4 linked regions of the Homo sapiens genome follow. The protein of the gene in region 2 purifies or fractionates together with the protein of the main gene of each other region. This does not show direct contact. Each region holds a gene or a part of one and is shown on either strand. Other genes may lie near its edges.

Region 1 (4,301 bases), on a different chromosome or scaffold from region 2:
CTATTGTATTAAAATAAAAGAAGAAGACGGTATTACATAAACTGCATCCCCTTCAATTCCATTTGATGTTGACCAGTTTAGAAATGACAGACTTGGACCTTCCTTATGGTAAGAGAAGGCATGTATTTTCCTTGCACTTTCTGATAAATTTTCATTTTGTTTCATAAGGAGGAAAAATAAGAAATGGAAAGCTACTGATCTGCTCTGATGACTAATCAAAAAAAAAAAAAGACCTCATCATTTGCTCTACACAGCTTCCCAAGGATAATATTAACACCAGGCAAGCAGAGTTATTCCCAATAAGGACACAGATAATAACACTCTGCGATCCTCAGCAATACAGCTCTTAAAAGGCAAAAGCAGTCTCAGAAACGTTGTTAACTCAGAAGTAACAAGGATTTATGTTCTGCAAATGATTAAGCTATGGCAGATTGCAAGCACAGTGTTTCTCTCTTGTCAGTTTTAACACAAAGTGATGTTCTATCATTTTATGTGGTTCAAGTCACCTTGTATATTTCTTTTAAGCCCATAACTACTATTAAGCCATGTGACTGGTATCCGTTTTATTTTATTCTGGAACAAAACCAAGCTGAATTCCTTTCCATTACAAAACCAGAGCATCATGACCAAAATCACAACCTACTCACATATTTTCTATTTGCCCCATAGAAAAATGACCACTGAGAGGCAGATAATACACATAGAAGATTTCATCATGAGTTACCTCAAACGTAAGCTTATTCTTCTCTTTATCAGAGAAAGGGAACCTCTGACAAACCACATCTCTTAAATACTCCTCCACAAACTCCATGGTCTGAGCAAATCTCTCCTTAATTTCATCTTTGGAAGCTCCACTACTATCATAGCTGAAAAGAAAGGAGAAAGAAAGGAAACAAAATTTCAAGTTATTCCCAGAGAGGTCTTCCTGGGTCACTCAGCTTCAAAAGTCAACATCCCCTAACCCTTGGCATCCCTTGACCCTACTTTATTTTTTCCCTCCTTAGCATATATCACCAACTATATATTTGAGTCGTTTATCTTGCCTATTGTCTGTCTTCCACCAACTAGCATAGAGATTGCTTTCTAGTTTGTTCACTGATATATTTCTTGAGCTTGGCACATAGTACACACTTAAATATTTGCAGAATGAAAGAGGAGATAAATGAGATATAAAAAATACAATCGGGGCCAGGCGCGGTGGCTCACGCCTGTAATCCCAGCACTTTGGGAGGCCGAGGTGGACGGCTCACAAGGTCAGGAGATCGAGACCGTCCTAGCTAACACGGTGAAACCCCGTCCCTACTAAAAATACAAAAAATTAGCCGGGCGTGGTGGTGGGCGTCTGTAGTCCCAGCTACTTGGGAGGCTGAGGAAGGAGAATGGCACGAACCCGGGAGGCAGAGCTTGTAGTGAGCCGAGATTGCGCCACTGCAGTTCAGCCTGGGCAACAGAGTGAGACTCCATCTCAAACAAACAAACAAACAAACAAAAACCAAAAACATAATCATGCCATCTTTCACATTCTTGAGGAAAAAAATATTTGCCATCCACTTAATTTTATTTTAAGCTTGAAGAAAAAACCAACACTTCATCTTTCTTCTAAGATTTAATGAGACCATATGGGGCTATCTACTGCCGCACAGAATAATGTAAAGTGAGGTTTTCAGGTGCCAGGCTCACTCGTCAATGGCGATCTCCGAGGGAATCTCCGACCAGAGGCGGGCATATTTCACGGGGGTGACTTGTTCCTGGGGATCTCGGTCCACATGCATGTGAAGCATGAGGCGGCAGAAGGACGCCCTGAGGTCATAGGGCAGGTTCTCGTCAGACATGCAGCGGAGAATGAGATCGACATCCAGCTGGCCTGAGATTTCGTTGATGGCCAGGTATTGGCGGTCCAGACACATCCTCGCAAAGAGGTTCAGCTGATATCTAGAGGAAGGAACAAGGGCACACAGCTCACGCTCCAGAAATCATTCAGGATGAATGAAGGGTCGTCTGGGCAGCCCTGACTGTCATGGGAGTGACATTTGGCCAACTAAACTCATACATCAACACCCCTAAATTGCTCTTGTATACCAGGATTTTGGCTTTGGTACCAAGCAGATAAAAGAACTATTCAAGCTGTGCAGTAGAGTGTGGGTTGACAGCCAACAGGAACACATGTCTATCCAGCTGTGTTGGAGCAATTATGTGACGACCTAATTCCACTAGGTCCTTAATGTTTACTTTTTAAAATAAACGGGGGGAATGCTAAGGCCTAAGATGGTTGTCTATTTCTTTCCCTTCAGCTGTGTTTTATACAGTAAAGACCATGTAGGAAATGTTCAAGATATCACACATATTCAGCCTAATTAGAAATTTTATAACATTTTAAAGATCTTATATCATGTAAGTCACTCTAATTCCTACACGTGTAAAAAAACATTTCATTTACAAAAGTAGGAGACTCCTCACTTTTCATCTTCATCCAATTGCAAGTGAATGTTGTTAACTGGAACCTGACCAATTAAGGCACTCTTTCTCATTCACTTGGGAGAAGATTCATCAAACACTGAAAGAGTAAACATACTTGAAATGTGAAATAACGAGAAAGCCACAGGCTTTCAAAATACTGCCTTCTGAATTAAAAACTCTATGTATTTCTAATAATCATGATTTGAAGACATTCTCAGCCTCATTAGATGTCGGGGAAATGCAAGTGTAGACATGAGTCTATTTCACACTTATAAAATTACCAAAAATTAAAAAGCATCATGATATTCAAGGTTAACAAAGACATGAAGAAACAAAGCTTGTCGTCTACAACTGGTGGGTGTGTACACTGACACATCCAATTTAGAATTGCTTAGTAAAGCTTAAAATATGAATATCCTCCAAGCCCACCTCCCAGTGTGGAATGGAAATTCATACATATACTCAGAAAAATTTGAATGAAGATGTTTCCTGACATGAAGAACTGCAGCATGTGATCAAATATCAAACAGCGATGAAAATGTGATAAATCAATAAAACAGAATATCATCCAACAGTCCAAATTACAGAAATGGATTAATCTCTATTAACGCAGATATATTCAATATGGCTTCAGTACCCGTATTGAATAAATAAGGCAAGTTTTAGAATGGTATTTGGAGTACAGTCCCATTTATATAAAATTTTAAGTAGAGATAAAATACTACATATGATTTACAGATGCATACAAATGCAGCACACAGAGAATGTGGATAGGATGCGTACATCACACATGAATGAAAGAACAGAATACAGGAGGCAAGAAAAGGCATTTTATCTGCAGTTTTATTTATTTTATTAAAAAATAATAAAAGCCTTGCTTTATCTTCCCTTTCCTTTTCTTTTAAAAGTATTAATTGGTTCACTTCCTTTCTTTCTTCCCCTTCCCTTCCCTTCAGGTGGCAGGACTGGCAGGTCTTACAGCTGGAGCCAAGGAGACACTGGGGACCGTGGAGGTGGGTGGCAGAGGTGAGACAGGTACACACAGGGAAACGGGCAGATGGGTAAACATACAGGGAATCGTGGCAGCTGGAGGGAGTCATGAAATGGAAAAGGTGAAGGCTAGAATAAATCCTATGGTGTTGGAATGGAATTGGAAGTATTAGTGTAAGTACATGCTTTTTATTATATATTTGTGTAGTTATAGAAAGATACATGGATGAATGTGTAGATATATGTGTATACAAACACACACATCTTCTGTCTCTGTCTATAAACATTTGGTGAGATTGGCACTATCACCTTCATTTTGCAGATAAAGAAATTAGAGCATAAAATCAAACTTGGCCAATGTCAAAAAACTGGTAAGCGGAGAGGTAGGGATGTGACCCCACAGCCTGCCTCTTACGTACCTACCACCATATCTATGGGCCATGCTGCTGAAGGATAAACTATCACCAGGGACTGAGGCAAGCACTCATCCTTTTTGGGAACCAGCCACATCCAGATGTCAACTAACTGAAATCTTACACTCCAAACTCCTAAAACACACATCTGGCTTTTTTCTAGACAATCTTACAAGATGACTCCTTGTGATTCCTTGAAGTAATCAACAAACGAGCAACAAATTCCTAAGTGCCACTGTTTTGGGGCACCCCAATCTGAGCCCCACACGTGTCCCACGCACCTGTAGTAGCTGAGAACGTCTCGGTCCTCCTTCTGCCCTTCTTTAGCATCCTGAGCCAATTCCCTCACACTCTTGCTGCGAATCTCTTTGTTGCTGTCCCTCCAAAACAGCCACACCTCTTCCTCGTCTTCTCCTGCCTCCAGAGCATTCTCTCCAGTGG
Region 2 (4,854 bases):
GCTGGGATACACAGAGGTTAAGTCCCTTGTTCATAGTTACCCTACTACATCTGAGGCCAGGTTCAAACCAGGCAGGCTGGCCTCAGAGCTCATACCCATTGATATTATACTGCCTCGTACTTATATTGTCCACCATCATCATGTATGTGTGTCTGTGTGTGTGTGTTGGTGGTGGTGGGTGTTGGCAGACACTCTTTGCAAAGCCTACCTTATTTAACCAGTTAATTCCTTGACCATCCATTCAACAATTAGGACAATTAAAGTATCAAGCACTGCATACAACAGAAGGGAGGCGGCAGTAGACAAAAGTGGCTAAGGACATGGGGCATCTGTCTATGTAATAAGTAAAAGGACAAGAAGGATGTTGACACATTTTAAAAGGTACAACAGGAGTGAGGGCAGGTAGCCTCAGCCTATTGGGGTGCATGGGAATGTGGGGGTAGAAAGAAAGGGGTGAGAATCAGAGAAAAGGTCTAACTCCTCAGAGGATGTGCGGATGGCCAGAACACTGACATTCTTCTACAGAGGCCTCACTATTCCTGGCTGTCCTGTCCCAAGCTGGTCTACCTGCTGCCCTGTTGGCCAGGATGACTTGTCTGTGCCACAGCACTGAATACCAGGCGTGCATTCTTCTCTCCCAACACTCGGCTTGCCATGGCCAGAAAAGACAAGTGTTTTAGAGGTATGGTTTCAGGCAGACACATCCTAGAATTAAAATTACTTCAGGGATATCTGCAGTAAAGCTGAAGGAAACACTCAAAAGGCCAAAGGAAGCAAGCTTTATTGAATTTACAACGTAGAAAATATTTGTAGTTCCTTAGACATTTGCATTGCTATAAAAATTACACTTTATGGTATAATTATTAAGGTTTGAAGAGAAATAAACAGTATAAACGAAATATGGCCCACACAATGAAAATGTAAACCATATAAATCAAAATCATAAAACAATTATTCAATACTCAGAGGCCTACTTAATATATACATATGAAATTTCTTACACACACACAATAAATGCCCACAAAAACCATCACTGAAGCCGATCACTGTACAAATATGAAAATAAATCTTTATCTTTAACCTCAATTTTATCTTCAGCAGGAGGGTTGTGCAACTTGGGTTTATGCAGATCACATCAAGTGTTAAATAATCAAATGTCACATATGTCATATAAAGCAGCAAGTGAAAAAAATAAATTATGAAAATGCATGGGCTAAAAGTTAACAGTGAAAAATATCTCCTTATCCAACATTATTTTCCACAATGAAATTAAAATATTTTACAATGTATCAGGATACATTTAAAAAAGGACTGTAGTATAACTATGATTTTAAAATATCTTAAAGAAAAACAGGGACAAGGTGAATAACTTCCATAGTAATATGCAAATGTATCAAGTCTAAGATAAAAACATTAAATATTTTTGTTCTTACTGAAAATGTGCTTTAAATTTGAGAACACCTTCATGAAATCAAAACGTTGGTAATAATCATGAATCTCCCAGCATACAGAGCTTTAAGAAGCTTCTCTTTAAACATGATTGCTAACCAGAGCTCTAAGTCTCTAATTTGGATTATGTTACCAAAATATTTATCAGGGCTCAAATACTTAAAGATGATTGGTTGACCATCAAAGGCACTGGTGTAATCTCATCAACGTGGCTATACTGACAGGACAATCCAGAGGTAAAGACTATGAAAATACTTCTGTATTATGGTATACTCTTTCACAGATTGTAAAACAAATATAAAGAGACACTTTGGAGAGAATAAATAAAGGCAACACAGTAACATATAAACTAACACAGTTTTGTGCAACTGCACCAAAACCTAAACATGTGTCCCATATATCAGCATCTACATATATCTGATCCAATGTCATCAAAAGATGCCACTAAGACAAACAGCCATGGCAAAAGTTTTCCCATGCCACATAAATAATACCCCCCTTATTTTGAAAAATTTCCCATATGCAAGACATTCTTTATGATCAGAAATGTAATCTTTTCTTTTTCTGGAACCAGGAAACAGGAATTCATGGCAGAGTTACTGAGGATAGATCCAACTTTCCAGCAAAAATATCAGATGTCTTCAATAGAGAGAAGGCATGTTTATAAAAGTTAAATGATGTTGTAGCTATTTATAATCTTTGCCTGTAACTATCCGGTCAATTCCCATTTTTTCAAAAAACTGATGCTTGCGGAATTTAAGGTTCTATCACAAACACCGTGAACAGAAAAAAGATTGCTACATGGAATTGTTTCGATTCAACAAAAATAAATGTTTTTAGCTTATACAATACAATAAATAACAGCTACTTTTTAAGTTCCTTCAGCAAGCTACTTGGGGCCTGGACCTAGATGAAGCAAGGTAAATTAGAATCTTTTGTTGTAGCCCACCCTAGGCTCAAGTGTTGACTCCTTTGGCTCTTAGAGGCATCTCAGTGGGGAGGTCTGGGAAGCAATGCAGGTTCTGGAAGGAGAGTAGGCCCAACCAGGTCACTGGTGATGATGAGCCACTAGTCACATTAAACAAAGGACCCTGACTCACCTTTCCTAATGGTGATTCCTCTTTCAAGGATATTATTTCAAAACCATGCATAGAATTTCTTTCATTGATTATTACTTAAGGAAGTTAATGTTAGCAACCAGGGAGTTAGGGGACTTGCATTACATTACAGGTTATGCTTCTAAACCATGGGAAGGTTTGAAATCAGCAGGGATACGAAAATGAAAATTTTGCAAAATGTTACATCACTCTAAGTACTAGCATTTTTTTTAGTGAGATAATTCACAACCATAAAATTCACCCTTTCAAAGTATACAATTCAGTGGTTCCTAGTACATTCAAACAGTTATACAACTATCACCACTATTCCAATTCCAGAACATTCTCATCATCGCCCAAAGAAACCACATACCTATTAGCAGTCACTCCCCATCCTCCCTTTCTCAGCCCCTGGCAACCACTCCCTTAAGTGAAGAGTGACAACTTTCCTGGGCATTGTGCTTTCAGTAGTATGTGGCTTTACATGTTTCCATTAGAATTTTTAACACCAAATTCAAGCAGTGAGCTTTGTAACTATTCTGAGATTATGAAATATCCTTTTATATACAACTATTTTTGTCTCAAACATGTTTCTTTATACATAAAAAATAGATATTTCTGTTTCCATTTTTTAATCAAATTCTGTCCTTATTTCAGAAGTGAGAAAAATCAATACTCCAATATTAAAAAGCAGGAATAACCATAGTTCTATTATTAACTGTGGGCCACCACACTCTCTGTCCTACTGCTTCCCACAGAATCTGAGGTGCCAAGGGCTGCAAGGCCTTTGAGGGCAAGCTGCACATTTTACAGATGAAGAAACAGATCCGACATGGGCTTGTGACATGTCCAAGGTCACAAGGCCAGTTAACAGCAAAGCTAGGATGAGAATCCCTTCTTACTAGAACTTTAGTATCAAATATTTAAATGCTGACTTTGTGGGTAACCTAATTCAGCTACCACATGAATCTAATTATGTCAGTTTCCTCTACAGCTTTGATCTGAGCATGTGATTTCTTTTCTTTTCTTTTTTTTTACCATTTTAAAAACATTTACATGTTATCTTTTAAGACCTGTAAGGACATGACTAGTCTATTTAGCCAGAGGGCCCAAATCACTCACTGAGACAAAACAAAGAAGAGCCAAAGTTCCAGAGGGACCTGAGAGCTGGGTTCAGGTTTCCTGCACTGTAACTCTCCATAGGACAGTGTCAGTAGGATGTGCCACTCTGTTAAGAGCCAAATAAGTCACACAAATTCAGTATTCTGGAAATGAAGACTTCACAGGCCAAGGATGTTTGGGATTTAGCCATTGCAACAATTCTTCATCTGTGGTGACTTTTTGGAATTGGTCCCGGTTAGATTGGTAATGGATCTGCTGTCATCCTTGTCAGTTCTCTTTTTCACTTCTCTGAGACAGAGATAGAGAGAGACAGAGAGAGAGAGAGAGAGAGAGAGAGAGGATTACTGAGGTATAAAAACTAAGCCACAGATGGTTCTGTAGAAATAAAAATAGCCATGCTGAGTGTCTGCACGGCCTTATAGACATTGTTTTAATGCTTTATAGGTCTTGACTTAATCTTCATAAGAACCATATAAATTTGCTGTGCCCCATTTTGTATGTGAGGAAATGAGGGCAAAAAGAGGTTAAGACAGTTCCCTTAGGTCACATGACTACAGAAGTGGGATTAAAACCACACAGGCTGGCTCCAGCACCTGTTTTCTGAGTACCAGGCCACACACACACACACACACACACACACACACACACACACACACACACACCCTTCTCCCCTCACTCTCTCCTGAGGTTTCAGGATGCTGCAGAACCTGCGATACACACAGCTTGCTCCTTAACACTCTGGAACCAGGTTTCCAGCTTCATGTAATGGTTGCTGAGCTTAACAAAAGCAATGGTGATTTTATAACCGTTCTTTAATTATACATGATCATGGAGGTAACAATGGATTTACCACCATCCCTTTCTGTCATCGTAAGCTTCTTCCAGTATTAACTGCTAGAGGCAAGACTCACGAAAAAATGTCTTACTCTCCAAGATCTTATGAAAACCCCCTAAGGAAGTATCCTTCCAGGTGTAGCCACTGGGGATGCTTGTGAAATATGAAGACCAGAAGTCTCACCTTAGACAAGCTGAACGGCTATCTCTGCCAGCGAGATGAGTGCCTCCCTAAGATGGCCCCAAATAATTCTGCCCTTCCTTGTCAGTGCCTGATGCCTCTCCCATCAAGAGGTGAAGGTTTGATCCCCTACCCTCTTGGTCAGAGCTGGTTCTCCACCTGCTTTGACCA
Region 3 (4,202 bases), on a different chromosome or scaffold from region 2:
TTGCAGCAATTCAAAATTGATTTCACTTTTTATATTGCTATTTTGTAGAACAACAATTTCTGAATAGTCTGATTTTTGTAATTCTTATGAATAGCCATTAAACATTTATTTTAGGAATAAACAGCTGGGTAGCAGTATAATATATACTGTGAAAATCAGAAATAAATGGCCTTAGAACAAAGTATAAACATCAAAGTAAAAGAATACAATGTCTGCAGCAAGTCGTATTGGGTAAGAGAAGGTGCAAATGGCTGAAAAATAAATGGTGAACACCTGTGCTGAATAAATTAAACACCTGTTCCTCAGTTTTTCATTTGATTCCTCTAAAAGGCTGTTACAAGGTATTCATAAGACACATTTACTTTGAGGTGTTTCTTTGTTATTACTATTAATTGGGAAGCAGTACTAGATGATATCAGAATATATACCTCCAAACTCTCAGAGTAGTATATGAATTTTGGCAATTAGTGAAAAATGCATTTACAAAAAGCAGTGTTAAGCAGTTTTTATTAAGAAAAATTATCTAAAAAATATTGTTACATTATAAATGACCTTTGGAATTAAAGCTAGCAATGTAAATGACACTAAATTTAATTTGTGAAATCAATTTTGATAGTGAACATTTTTATAAGAACTAATGATGCAGATTGTTTTCCTTTAGATAAACAGTCTGCAGCTTAAGATGGTTCGACTTAATGATTTTTCAACTTTGTAATGGTTTTATTGGGGTATTAAATGCACTTTGTCTTACTATATTGGGTTTATCAGGACGTAACCCCATCATAAGTCGAGGAGCACCTGTGTATGTTAAAATCATTGTAATATCTTAGAACTCCAAGGTTCATTTGAAGGCTTATAATGCAGCTACATTGTTTTGTAATTGGTAAATGTGTTTTTATAGTTTTCAAACACTTTTAAATTAGTAGAATTGAACTATTACTGGATTCTGAGGTTTTCTCTGAAAGGTTGAATATCTTTTTAAGAAAATGTCTTTTACCACAGTATAAAGTTTTAAATTTGGGGAAAGATAACCCTTTTAGATGAACAGAATTTTGCTTTCTGAGGATGTCAGTGGAGTTTTAGGAGCTTTTGGGTGTCTTTATATTTTCTCATTAGGTATTAACTTCAACCTTGGCAGAACTCCAAAAATACTGTGGTTGTTTTTAATGGAAAGTGAGGACAGTGTTGTGTTTTTATTGCTTGTGTTTTCCGTAGTGCTAGGAATCTCACCAAATTATAATGTTGAGAACAGTAAAACGATAGTTTATTGATGTAGAAAAAATTTCCGAAGAATAATTTCTTCTCTTCGCTTATACCTTTAATTAAGTATTTTGACTTATATCTTCCAGGTTGTCCAGTACTGGTTAATGTATTTCATTCACTCTATAGGGCCCCCATCACAGAATGTAATAGAGAACCACTGACTAGATCATTTGCTATGCTCAGTTTTCACAGTGTCATCATCATAGTCTGTAATAAGAGAAGTTGCCATATTTTGTCTTATCTGTAAAGTGTAATTAATTATCCTTTCTTAAAATTAAAGGCATGGAACTTTTGCTTTAAGAGTTAGGCATGGAACTTTTACTGAAAAACAAAAAATTAGGTGTGGAACTTTTGCTGAAAATTGTCCCCTTAGATCCCTCATGTAACACACTTTAGTTTTGTTGGTTTTCAAGATAATAAAAGTGAATAAGAGTGTGAACAATTCTGTAGAAAATATATAAATCACCTTTCATATTATGACTCTTCATTCTTAATGCTGTTAATAGCGATGCTATTATGTGCTTATATGGCCAATGGGCTTTTGTCATGTGAATGCAGAAAACCTAGGTATACAGGTTTTGAGTTGACTGTTGAGCTGTGGGCAGTTTAACAATATCTTATTTTTGAGTAGTTTTTTTTTTTTTTTTTTAGACGGAGTTTTGCTCTTGTTGCCCAGGCTGGAGTGCAATGGGACGATCTTGGCTCACTGCTACCTCCGCCTCCTGGGTTCAAGTGATTCTCTGGCCTCAGCCTCCCAAGTAGCTGAGATTACAGGTGCCCATCACCACGCCCAGCTAATTTTTGCATTTTAGTAGAGACTAGGTTTCACCATGTTGGTCAGGCTGGTCTTGAACTCTTGACCTCAAGTGATCCACCCACCTCGGCCTACCACAGTGCTGGGATTACAGGTGTAAGCCACCGTGCCCGGCCTGATTAGTATCTTATCTTTGATTAACCTTTTAGAGTTTATAAACTACTTTTCATATATGTTAGCTTCCTTATCTCACAACAGTTTCATAAAAGGTAAGGCAAATGGACTGATCCCCATTTTATATGTGGTGAATCAGAGAGATTAAATGACTTGCCAAGTGTTTCCTAAGTGATAAATCTAGGATAGAACAAAGTGGGTGTTTTCCTCACTTTGGTTTCCTAGATCTCAAAAATATTCATGTAACATTAATGATATCAATTTGTTTCTTCACTAGATTTTATTAGAATTACTATAACAGTAAATATGGCATTTTATTTCTTGACATTTGAGTGTTATTCTATCATTGTCCCTCATTTTTTTTTGTAGTGTTCATTGTGTTATTTTTAATAAGGCACTTCTTTTTTTCACTTAACTCGGACTTTCTAATTTACAATACCGTGTTTTTTTCTTGGCCTTATTTTTTGTGTTTTTTGCAACAAGTTTGTTTCGCATTTGAAACAAAAATAGTCTGCACGTATAAACCATTATTAATTAAGCATTTATTGGATACCACATCTATGGAGCAGTGTGGTAGGTGTCGTGAGGGGCACAGAAGGAGCGGTGCTAAGGTATTCCCTCAAGGAATTACAGTCTGATTTGGAAGATAAAGGATATACTGGAAAACTAAAGGACTATTAAAAAGGAATGGATAAATACATGCAAGGTAAACTGCATATGTGTATTATGGGAGCATGGTATAATAGAGTGATGAGTGTAATTGGAGTAAGGAAGACTAATTGGAAGTTAAATTTAAACTTTTTCTTAAAGTAGTTTGCTAAAGTATGTGATTATGTTTGAGAATGGAAGAATTGTGATATTATGCAGAGTGGGAAGAAAAGGACAGAAGAAACAAATGATATGAACCAAACTGTCATGATTTGACAATTAGAATTGATAAATTCGGAGTTAGAGATGCCATGTTGGAAAGTAGGTGGAGATGAAACCAGAAGATTAGTAAATAAGGAAGGTGGTTTGGTTTAGAGACAGGAAAAGGAAGATTTTTTTGTGGGGTATTTGATATAAGGAAGGGCTACTGTTAGGGCTACTGTTAGTCAACTAGCAGATTTTTACTTGCCAAGACCAATCACATACAAGGCATTCTGCCAGGTATTGAGCAGTGTGGCAACTCAGTGAAAATAGTGGGTTCTGTGGAGGATAAAATATCACAGAAATTCATAAAGCAGGCAGACTGAATGGGAGCCTGTTCTATAAATCAAGACAATGGTGGACTGAGAATGTTAGCTCCAATAATAAATTTGGAAATGGGGCTTCGACTAGAGTAATAGACATCAGTACTAAAATAGGCAGGAAATTATACAGAAAGGTCCTATTAGATACCACATTGTGATAGGCCAACTTAATCTTTTCAAGGCAGATATTTTTCCCTTTATTGAAGGTCTTCTGTCGTATCACCAAGTCAGGAATTCCTCAGTAATAATCATCTTTGATAACTACCACTGTTGAGTATTTACTATGTCCCAGGCACTGTGTCAGGCTCTTTGCATGCAGTACTTAATTTAATCTTCAAAACAACCTTGTGGTAGGTGGTATTATCTCTGTGTCATAGATGGGTAATTTAGGTGGTCTCAGAGAGGGTAATTTAGGTAATTACCTAAATTGAGGGTAATTTAGGTGGTCTCAGAGAGGATACATAAGTATCTAAGTTCGCAGAGCTTACTAGTCATATGGTCAGGGTTTGAACCAAGATCTGTTATTCTGAAGACTGTGTTCTTCATCACTGTGGTAATTTGCTTCCAATACAGTTCCCCTGTCTGTCTTAAATTCTCAAAAATGTGCATGTGACATGAAATCTTTATATCTTTCAAATCTTAATTTTGTTTCATATTTTACTGAAACATTAACAGATGAATGTTTAATGTCTGAGTCACATAAGCAAAACGTACACTGAACTTGATAAAAGGGGTAAGGGAATATATATATAAAGCCTGGTGTTTATTATTATATTTCT
Region 4 (4,301 bases), on a different chromosome or scaffold from region 2:
ACCCCAGCCGTTCAGGGCCACTACTGGTCTCCGCGTCTTGATGGTAGTGGTCACCCCGGCCCAGGTGTTTTTTCTTTATCTCTTTGTCTTGTGCTTTTATTTATTACAATCTCTCATCTCCGCACATGGGGAGAACACCCACTAAGCCCCGTAGGGCTAGACCCTACAACTGGCCACCACTCCACAGATGCAGGCCAGCCCCAAGGAGGCCACTCCAACAGCAGGCACTGTCAGAACACTGGGATGGGCTGGTGGTGGGTGGGAAGCCTGGGGGGCCCTTTCTCCAGATAGCCAAAGTCACACCTACTAGGCGGAATGTTAAGAGAGAAACCCAGATTCACTGGTTGGGGCTCCTGGCTCATCAGAGAAAAGAAATTAACTCCTGCATCCCTGCAAAAGCAACCATTTCCTTTACCTCTACATATCTTTACCAAGAATCCACCCTGTGCCAACCAACGGGGGGCCAGACAGTATATGGAATATATAGAATTTTAAAACAAGTACAGCTAAAGCCTTCAGAAAGCTTAAAGTCTAGAAAGGACAATAAGCCGCACACGCAGAGAACCCAAATAGTCTCTCCAGGAAGAATGGAGATAGCAAGAACAACTAAACTTGGCCCAGTAGAAATAAAGGTCGGGGCCAGTGTGCCACCCTGCCTCTGCCACAGGCCTGGGTTTCTGGCTGTCAGGGTCAGGCGGGCTGTCTGACAAGTCCTGGGGTCTCTACAGCGGTGCTGGGTGCATGGGAGGACATATCTGTAAGGCCAAGGAGAAGAAAGACAGGGAGCAGGAGACCAAAGGGAAAGCTGGGAAGAGAGGGAGAAAAGGTGCAACCATGGGCCGCCAGCCAGCCCTTGCCTCATATATTTGGCCTGCCAGCCCCAGGCTTGTCTCCCACTCTCCATAACCCAGAACTGGACTCTCTCAGTCTTTCTCACTTGACAGAGTAACTGAGGCTGTAGGACCCTCAGCAGGGCAGACCCTCAGGCCAACTCGCCCTGGCTCCAAACCTCCGCAGAGCTCTCTGGGAAACAAAGCAACAAAGGCAGCCCTGACAAATCAATCCAGAAAGTGAAGCAGCCTACACCACAACCCCGCCTTGCCAGAAACTCAGTGTTCATGGTGGAAAAGGAGATGAGGGCGGGGCGCTGTTTTAGATTAAAGGAAACTGAAGAGGCATAAGAAAATGTAACACGAGTACCTTGACAGGATCTCGATGGTTTTTCTTTTTTTTTGACGGAGTCTCACTCTGTTGCCAGGCTGGAGTGCAGTGGCACGATCTCAGCTCACTGCAACCCCCACCTCCCGGGTTCAAGTGATTCTCCTGCCTCAGCCTCCCGAGTAGCTGGGACCACAGGCATGTGCCACGATGCCCAGCTAATTCTTGTATTTTTAGTAGAGACGGAGTTTCACCACGTTGGCCAGGATGGTCTTGATCTCTTGACCTCGTGATCCGCCTGCCTCAGCCTCCCAAAGAGCTGGGATTACAGGCATGAGCCACTGCGCCTGGCCTAGGATCCTGATTTAAAGAAACCAATGGTCAGGCCCGGCGTGGTGGCTCACGCCTGTAATCCCAACACTTTGGGAGGCTGAGGCGGGCAGATCACCTGAGGTTAGGAGTTCAAGACCAGCCTGCCCAACATGGTGAAACCCGTCTCTACTAAAAATACAAAAATTAGCTGGGCGTGGTGGCTGGCACTGGTAATCCCAGCTACTCTGGAGGCTGAGGCAGGAGAATCACTCGAACCCGGGAGGCAGAGGCTGCAGTGAGCCGAGATTGCACCATTGCACTCTAGCCTGGGCTACAAGAGGGAAACTCCATCTCAAAAAAAAAAAAAAAGAAACCAATGGTCGGTCAAACACAGACAACCTGGGCCCAGTGGCTGTAATCCCAGCACTTTGGGAGGCCAAGACAGGAGGATTGCTTGAGCTCAGGAGTTCGAGGTTACAGTGAACTCTGATCACACCACTGAGGACAATGGGCACATCTGACTATGGATTGGGCCCTGAATGCTATTAGGAAACTATTAATTGGTGTGATCACAACACTGTAGTTACATAGGGATGTATAATAAAATATTTAGAGGTGAAAAAGATGCAATGTATGTAATTTATCATAAAATACTTCAGCAAAAAATACAAATATCAAATGTGACCACTGTAAACAATGATTAAGTCTAGGTGGTAAGCAAATTGGTGTTCTAAATGCTTCCCACTACTTTTCCTGAATTGTATTTATGCCTCAGGCTGTGAGAGCATAGGTAAAGGCCAGGGCCACCCAATGTAAGTGATCTGTAAAGTCTACCCACTGCCATCATCATCATCATCTTTGAGACACAGACTTAATTTTCCCTCCCATTACCTATATCACCCCCATCATCTATTTCTAGACTCATACTGGAGAAGAGGGCTCTCCTGCACTGTGCAGGAAGGGCTAATGGCTGGCTGGCTGGCGGGCTGGCTGGCTGAGCGATGGGGAGAGCAATTTGCTAACCAAATATGCACAGGTGTCTGCCTCAAGCACCTGCAGCTGCTCCTGGACTGAGATTTGTGTTGACAGCCCCTTCCGGCTCTGCCCACCTGCTGACCAAAAAAACATAGCACTCTGGCCATTTTACTCCCTCACTGAAGCCTCTGCAATGAGTCTCTCCTGACTGTCTCCCCAAGTGGAAATCCCTCTGTAATGTGGCATGTGGCTCCACCCAGTTCCATCCCCAGCCCACACCCTGGACTCACTGTGTTGTGAACGCCCAGCCTCATTTCTGCACCCACGATTTCTCTCACAGTCCCTAGCCTGAAAGGCCCTACAAACTTCTCTTCTCAGTCCCCTGCTGCGTGACCCCAAGCTCTCCAAGCCAGGTGTCCTGACTGCAGGGAATTGTGACTGCAGGTACAAATGCTGGGTGTCACTGGCACCTTTCGCATGACCAGCCTGACATACCCAGGGGGCTCAGAGCTCACATTCAGAGGCCTGTGATGAACTTAGTAGAGATCTGCGTTCTGCTTTCCTCCTTCCCCCACCCCAGGTTTCTTCCCTTCCACTCACACAGCCCTCACTCCCAGAGAGGGGTGTCCCAGCCCCACATGGGGTGAAGTCTAGAGAGCAGGGCTGGGGGTGGACATGCAGGGACTCCAGGCATGTGTGCAGAGGTCATCCAAACCCAGAAACCTCCCCCTAAGCTGAAAACAGAAAGCTGGTGTGGCCCCACCCTAAAACTCAGCATGTGTCCCCACCCCCAACCCAAGCCACCGCCCCAGTGGGCCAAGCTAGGGAGGGGATATGGGGTCAGGAATGTAGGGCAGGGCAGAGTGTAATCAAGTGGCTCCAGCAGGATTCTTTCAGGCCGGCAGGATTCAGGCCGAGCAGTTGGATGCAGCCTGAGACCCTGGAGTCTCAAGGTGGATGTGTGGCACTGGTTCTAGGCTGAGCCAACCCCGCGCCACCCCCTCTCCACTTCATCCCTTCTCCATCACATCCTCGCACTGCCTGGGAAGTGCCTAGTACCTAACCTTGAGGGCAGAGGCTGGTCTTACTCCCCACATGCTAGTGCAACACTCACACATGACATGAATCATGTCTGACCCTCTGTGGCACCAAGTTCTGTTCCTATACCCCTCCACCACCACAGAAACACAAAAAGTTAGACAGCCTAAGAGTTAAAGGTGTACCTTGTCTTTGATCTCCATTTCTGGGAACGTATTACCTGAGAGGATAACTATAACTAGACAAGTGTTCAGGCATGCATGCACTAGGATGTTCAGGGCAAATTGTTCTTAACAGCAAAAATTTACAAAGAGCCTGAATGTTGAATACTAGAGTTGCTTAAATAAATTAAGGTACAGCATACCATGGCTGTGCAGCCATAACAATGGTGTGTTGGCATGGGAAAATACAGCTCACTATATATATGCAAAAAAGGACAGGGTACAAAGCCATACGTGCAGTTTGATATTGTTTGTAAATGTTCATTTATGAATATAAAAGGCTAGAAGGTCATAGGGAATGTTCATGTAAGCCATAGTGGTATTACAGATCATTTTTTTGAGTTTTTCACATTTTCTCCATGGAATGTATATTTTTTTTTAATCTGAAAAAATATATATATTTTCAAAAAATGAGTTGCATGGATTAGGCTAAGACCAAGAATCTGCCTTGAGGTACAGAACAGAAGTCTAACATCTTCTTCCAATGAAATCACAATTAAATGAAAGCCAAGCCGGGTACAGTGGCTCATGCCTGTAATCCCAGCACTTTGGGAAGCCGAGGCAGGCAGATCACCTGAGGTCAGCAGTTCAAGACCA

What was found.
Region 1: the proteins of RASEF (region 2) and ITPR1 purify together in Homo sapiens (affinity purification with mass spectrometry; one large-scale study listed by BioGRID and IntAct). This does not show direct contact.
Region 3: the proteins of RASEF (region 2) and CHM purify together in Homo sapiens (affinity purification with mass spectrometry; one large-scale study listed by BioGRID and IntAct). This does not show direct contact.
Region 4: the proteins of RASEF (region 2) and ITPR3 purify together in Homo sapiens (affinity purification with mass spectrometry; one large-scale study listed by BioGRID and IntAct). This does not show direct contact.

The regions. Positions count from the first base shown.
Region 1 is NC_000003.12:4,670,767-4,675,067, reverse strand, and holds part of ITPR1 (inositol 1,4,5-trisphosphate-gated calcium channel ITPR1), read right to left. Parts: coding exon 4,142-4,301; intron 1,933-4,141; coding exon 1,681-1,932; intron 867-1,680; coding exon 725-866; intron 1-724. UniProt on the Homo sapiens protein: Inositol 1,4,5-trisphosphate-gated calcium channel that, upon inositol 1,4,5-trisphosphate binding, mediates calcium release from the endoplasmic reticulum (ER).
Region 2 is NC_000009.12:82,978,827-82,983,680, forward strand, and holds the end of RASEF (ras and EF-hand domain-containing protein), read right to left. Parts: intron 3,957-4,854; coding exon 3,851-3,956; 3' UTR 764-3,850; downstream 1-763.
Region 3 is NC_000023.11:85,964,059-85,968,260, reverse strand, and holds part of CHM (rab proteins geranylgeranyltransferase component A 1), read left to right. Parts: intron 1-4,202. UniProt on the Homo sapiens protein: Substrate-binding subunit of the Rab geranylgeranyltransferase (GGTase) complex.
Region 4 is NC_000006.12:33,627,021-33,631,321, reverse strand, and holds part of ITPR3 (inositol 1,4,5-trisphosphate-gated calcium channel ITPR3), read right to left. Parts: intron 1,285-4,301; exon of another isoform or gene 938-1,284; intron 79-937; exon of another isoform or gene 1-78.